2 separate regions of the Homo sapiens genome follow, and region 2 is linked to region 1. The links come from fine-mapping of genetic effects on gene expression. A gene starts in region 1. The other region holds a variant in brackets. All regions are shown on one strand. Distances are from middle to middle.

Region 1 (2,913 bases):
TAGAGTTTATAAGATAAAATTCTTATAATGTATTAAATCTTCTTCATTTCACAATGTGTTTTGTATGGTTGATTACCGTATTGTTTCACTACTTTTGTAGTCAAGTTTTTCATTTCTACTTTTGTTAACTTTTCTCTCTGATGAATAAAGAAAATTCCTCTGTAAATCCTTATATGAGAAAGAAAGAAAGTCTATGAAATTAATTTGATTTCTTAGGTTCGCAGATGCAAAAAACGTTATATTCCTGGTTTCACATAAAAACCATATTAGGGTAAATGATTTAAGAACATAAAATGAAAATTCCAGCATAAATTTGGGTGAACAAAAAGAGTGGTGCAGAAAACGTAACACATTTGGAGAGAAAGGGAGAAGAAAATATATATATTAAAAGTTAGGCAAGCATTTTATTAAAGTGAAAGTTCTAAAATATCAGTACACAGAGTTTTTAGGGGGAGAAATTGGTTTATCAGAAAACAGAGCCCCGTTATTTTATTTATTCTTCCCACCATTCACAAATTGCCTCCTCGTGAAGCGAAGTGGCATTTTCCTGGGGCAGAAGAGTCCCATTATAAATGCAGCAGAAAGAAAGGATGCTTCTTTGGACTTATCTCCTAGCTTCTCTGCGGCCTGCGGGGACTGAGAGGGTGGGCGAGCTGGTGTCCACTTTGTATTTGAATGAGCTTTCCCGGGCGAAGGCGGGGTGGCCCGCGCAGAGTGCTGCTGAGACACGTTTGGTGCCCATCGAGTGCTCTTGGTCTCATGGCTTTAGAGTGAAAATGCCCGCTCGTTAATGTGTCCCCAGGCGTTAGAAGTACAGTTTAGAGCCAGGAAATGTGGCCTCCCCCGCCGGGCTCCTGGCTACGCCCCGGCACCCCACCCCGACCCCCGCCCCGCCAGCACCTGCTTTTCCGCTCCCGCGCCCCGGAGGTCCCCGGGCTGGAGCTGGGGCGCGAGCTGGCAGCGGGGAGTGGGTGGCGCCCGGACCGTCGATTGCGGGCCCGTCCCGGGAACTGCAGCGCCCTCCCCACCTGGGCAGGGCAGCCCCGCCACCCGCCCGGGCCTCGACGGGCGCGCCGCCAGGGCTGGGGAGGGGCGGCGCGGAGGGCGGGGGCCGGGCGCAGGGCAGGGCCCGGCTGTGCCTCGCCGGCCGCTCGGGCAGCTCCCGGGCCGCGGCCAGCCGAGGATCAGAGCGCTTGCCCCGGGGGTCTGTCGCGTCGCAGGCGCCGCCGGAGCCCTGGCCATGAGGACCCTGTGGATGGCGCTGTGCGCGCTGTCGCGGCTGTGGCCCGGGGCCCAGGCCGGCTGCGCCGAGGCCGGGCGCTGCTGTCCCGGCCGGGACCCCGCCTGCTTCGCCCGCGGCTGGAGGCTGGACAGGGTCTACGGGACGTGTTTCTGCGACCAAGCCTGTCGCTTCACCGGGGACTGCTGCTTCGACTACGACAGGGCGTGCCCAGGTGGGTGGTCAGGCCGAGAGTGGGGCGCCGGCCGTTAGCCTGCAACCAACGGGCACAGGGCAGGGCGCTGTGCCAAGGACCTCAGTCCCTGAGCCAGGTGTCCTCCAGACCCTTTATCCCCACCCATCCCCACCACCGCCATCCAGGTACGCCCGGCTCCGTTCATCCTAGGGTCTCCCAGTCCCCTGCTAGACATCGAAGTGTCCCCCCACCCCCAAGACAGACCAGAGCCCGGATGGAAGGGCTGGATCCCGCTGTTCTCCAGCGGGATGGAAGGGAGCCGAGAGACGAAATCTCCGACTCAGAAACTCCAGCTGGATAGGGCCACCTCTGGCCGGCAGAGATGGCACTGACAGATAAGGGGCATGCCCCTGGGCCAGGCTCCACCACCTTCATTCTGTCAACCCTCGGGGATCTTTGGGGCTGGTGAGGGGTGATGAGGGCAGGATTGTGTAATCTTCCCACTTTGTGCCAAGGGCGTGCTCTGGGAAGGTATTAATACTTTCTTCTGGAGAGCAAGGTCTTAAAAATCTGAAGATGTCCTCATCTCTGGACCCCAAAATGTAGAACAGCCTCTTTCTCCTAGGAGGTGTACAGTATGTTCTTGGAATTTAATTTTCTCTGTACAGCATGACAAGGATTTTATCTCGAGGTCCCTATTATGTTGTAATCTTGCTGGTTTTCCTTTAGGGTCAGTCTTTTTCAACTTTAAATTTCCCACAGTATCTCACAGTTCCTTGTCCCCGTAAGGGCTCAATAAAAGCTGGTTTAATTGAATTAAAAGATAAAGGAACAAATGATGAGTACAGCCTTGAGGAACAAGGTGTACCTGAGAGAAGCCAGCCATGGAAGTGGAAGTCGCCCTGCTCCTGTTAATCACATCATCCCCAAAGCCACACAGATATTAGGGTTCGAGCTGAAGGATCCCGACATGTGGGAGCCTCAGCATTTTCTGGGGCTATGCCATTCCCTGGGCAACCGGATACCCAGTGGCGGGGAGCACCCTCCTGCCTCTGTGCTGTTTGAAGAGGGCTTCAACCCGTGGCCAGGCCCGATGCTGAAAGAACACAGTTGAAAGCATTAAGATTTTTTGACCCTGGTTGAAAGCTAATGATTTACCTGTGAATATTGATATTATTTTTGATAAAGCTTTTTGATAAGCTTCTTTCCCTTTCTGGCTCTAAGTTCAGAGTATTTTACTACTAAAGTAAGATGGAAGAGTCAGCTATTTAGGAAATGCAGTGCCCTTGAGCCAGGTAACTCCAGCCCCTCCTCACAGCATCCTAAACTGTCGGCCTCATTTCCCTGCATAACTCAAGCAAAGCCTCTCTCTCATGAGGGGCTTGCATACATTTTAAAGGTAATTATGGAATTCCTGTGACCCAGCTAATGTCCCCTGATCTGTGGTAAGCGCAGGGATAGAGAAGTGACAAAGATGCAGTCTCTGCTCTCTAGGACT
Region 2 (2,913 bases), 73 kb before region 1:
CCGTGGTGGCCAGGGAGGGCATGGCTTTGAAATACGGCAGACCACGAGTTTCCTTAATGACTTGTTCACATTTATCTTCTCCATGAGTTCTTACATAAACATCAGGTCCAAGGCCACAGGTGAACAGAAACACATCCAGGGTTCTGGAGGAGTTCTGTCAGCTCAGAGACAGACTGTGTCAAAGCTTGCTCTTAGGACCTGCTGCCCCCACCCCGCTCTGTCCTCCATTGGTTTTGCCAGTTTTCAGAGTGTCACCCTATGTGACTCATTCTCACACCATTGCCAGGTGGGCAGGGCAAGTGTTACGTAGCATTGCTAAATGGAGCTCAAGTGTGTTAAGGAAATTGAAATTTAGACACAGCATACAATTTCTTCCATAATGCTGGGGAGAGGGGCGTCTCTCTGTGATCTCTCAGTACCCCTAAAGCCATTCTGCACAGCAGCTTTGGATGATTGGATGACTTTGGGAAGAGTTAGGCAAGGTCCAGAGTGATCTGTATATCTGATTTCCCCTAATAATTAATTAGTTAGTTTGTTCTTCTGTGGAGGCTTTAGGACCTGGCTAAGCTTTTAGTCGTCCTCTAGATCAGGGGTCACTAACCCCCAGGCCATGGACTGGTACTGGTCTGTGTGTGGCCTGTTAGGAACTGGGCCACACAGCAGGTGAGCAGTGGGTGAGTGAGCATTACTGCCTGAACTCCACCTCTTGTCAGATCAGCAGTGGCATTAGATTCCCACAGGAGCATGAACTGTATTGTGAACTGCACATGTGAGGGATCTAGGTTGTGTGCTCCTTATGAGAATCTAATGCCTGATGATCTGAGATGGAACAGTTTCATCCTGAAACAATCTCCCCTGTGTCTGTAGAAAAATTGTCTTCCATGAAACCAGTCCCTGGTGCCAAAAACGTTGGGGACCACTGCTCTAGGCCCCCACGTGACCTGAGTGCTAAACTGGACTTTCTATTTAAGACGTTAGAGGGTCTGTCTCTGAGGTTCCTCCTCCACCGTTTCTGACCTAAAATGTGTATGGATGGAACACGAATAATCAGAGACATGCTAGGACTCCACGGGCCTCCGAACAGATTTGCCTGGGCCTGGAGAGTCCAGGAGATACCCGCAGGCTCTAAGGCATTTGGACCTTCCAAGGAAGCAGGGATGTTGGGCATTTTTGCACTGACTACACACGCCCTCAAAATACTGTGCTCTGTTCTGGACTCAACAACTTATGAGTGACAGGAAAAAGTAAGATGAAAACTCAGAGGTAAGCCACAAAGATGAAAAAGTAGATTGGTAGATGTTATTTTTGCATGAAGATGGAAAAACTAGGAAGAGGCCATTTTGGAGAGAAAAAGTCAAGGGGAAGTTCGGGAATAATCTTCAAACACGTAAAGTTTATTTTACAAAAACAGGAGGCCATTGCTGTCCACGGAGAAGGGAACGAAGAGAGACGTGCATGCACTCTTGGCTGGGCGGATTCAATTAGCAAGAGGAAAACTGTCTTGCCAGCTAGAATGAGTGTCTGAAAGTTGTAAAATGACCTTCTCTGGCACCCTCCTAAGCAGGGTGGATTCTCCTCTTGCTAGTGAGTTTAC[G/A]AGTTGAAGTCCCTGACAGTAGCAAAAGGGCTAGATCAGACATCCCATTAGCACTCACCCCAGTGGTTGTAATTTTTCACTGAAGACCAAATAAAATCTTTAGATTTGTAGAAAATGGCATCAAGAGAGCAAGAACATTAGAGAAAAAGGAAAATATTTGAACTGTCAGCTCCAGGAATTGTAAGCACAAGAGCTGGGATGCAGGGCCAGTGCCCTGGAACATGTAAAAGCCCAGCTTTGCTTCCCTCAACTATTTCTCAAACTGTTTACAAGATGGAATTAGCTATTCTTCCAAGCTTCCAGAATTCTGTGATTGTGAGTGCTTTTTACTTAAACATTTTTTAAAAATTTTTTTATTTTTATTTTTGAATTTTCATAATTTGGTGACAGAAATTGTTTCATTTTTATTTTTTGGAGACGGAAGTCTTGCTATGTTGCCCTGGCTGGTCTCAAACTCCTGGCCTCAAGCAATCCTCCCACCTTGGCCTCTCAAGTGGCTGGGCCTGCAGGCGTGCACCACCACACTTGGCTATGAGTGCTTTTTAAAAAGAATGGTTTGAATTTGTTTATATAAGCTACATAGGAATGACTCATTGTCCAGTCCATTGGCCACTCTGGAAGTGAAAAAAGAAGAAATAAGACTGTTTCGGTATTGAAGACCTAAACCAACAGTGAGGCTTGACTTTGCTGCGAGTTGCTTGATTTTCATGTGTGTGCATGTGTAAATAATAGCTGGTACCACTCTGAGCTGTGTTTCTCATTGTAGGGTTGGCTCTTAGTACTCTTGCGATGTAAGTCACAGCAATGTGCTGTGCTGAAACGGACAATGGACTCCATCACTATGAAACGGACAATGGACTGTCTCCATCACTAGGAACTGTGTGATCTTGGGCAAAGCCACCTAACTTGCAGAGTTCTGGTTTGCCTATCTCTAAGATGAAGTCTTTAGAATAGACTAGTGTTTCCTAAATGTCAGGCAATTGTCATTAAAGTCACATGTTTACCTTCCAACTACTACCTGTACTTTTATATTAATATTTTCTTTACATTAACTCATTTTAAAATTAGATAAATATACTTAAAAGGTAATTTTGTATCTTATTACACAAGGAATGCTACACTACTTGCCATAAGTAGAAAATAAATGCAAAGTAAACACAATGAAAATAAAACAATGTTATTAAATTCTAGCTAGTAACTGCTGCTTGCCAAAGACTGAGCCTGAGGCCTGTGCTCTCTCTTTACTAAAAGGAGATTCAGAAGTGTTAGAAACATATTAAAGATATATTAGTCCCCCCTCCAAAAAAAAAAAAGATATA

Which allele goes with the higher level. Alleles are on the strand shown, and positions count from the first base shown. SD is a standard deviation of normalised expression in the study named.
For the expression in esophagus mucosa of the gene that starts at base 1,136 in region 1, A is the low allele of the variant in region 2 and G is the other (moderate effect, 0.44 SD a copy in GTEx).

Evidence for each region. PIP is the estimated chance that this variant, and not a neighbour inherited with it, causes the effect. A credible set is the group of variants that fine-mapping cannot tell apart.
Region 2: its variant is the best candidate, but not a certain one, in a credible set for the expression of SBSPON in esophagus mucosa (GTEx, PIP 0.62).

What each region holds. Positions count from the first base shown.
Region 1 is chr8:73,091,395-73,094,307 of GRCh38, reverse strand. SBSPON (somatomedin B and thrombospondin type 1 domain containing) reads left to right here and starts at 1,136. Exons shown (of 5, transcript NM_153225.4): 1 at 1,136-1,454. The coding sequence starts at 1,241.
Region 2 is chr8:73,164,762-73,167,674 of GRCh38, reverse strand. All of the region lies in intron 2 of LOC107986891 (a long non-coding RNA gene), which reads left to right. Among named protein-coding and RNA genes, the nearest start is that of SBSPON, 73 kb to the right of the region's middle. The variant G/A (reference allele first, on the strand shown) is at 1,595.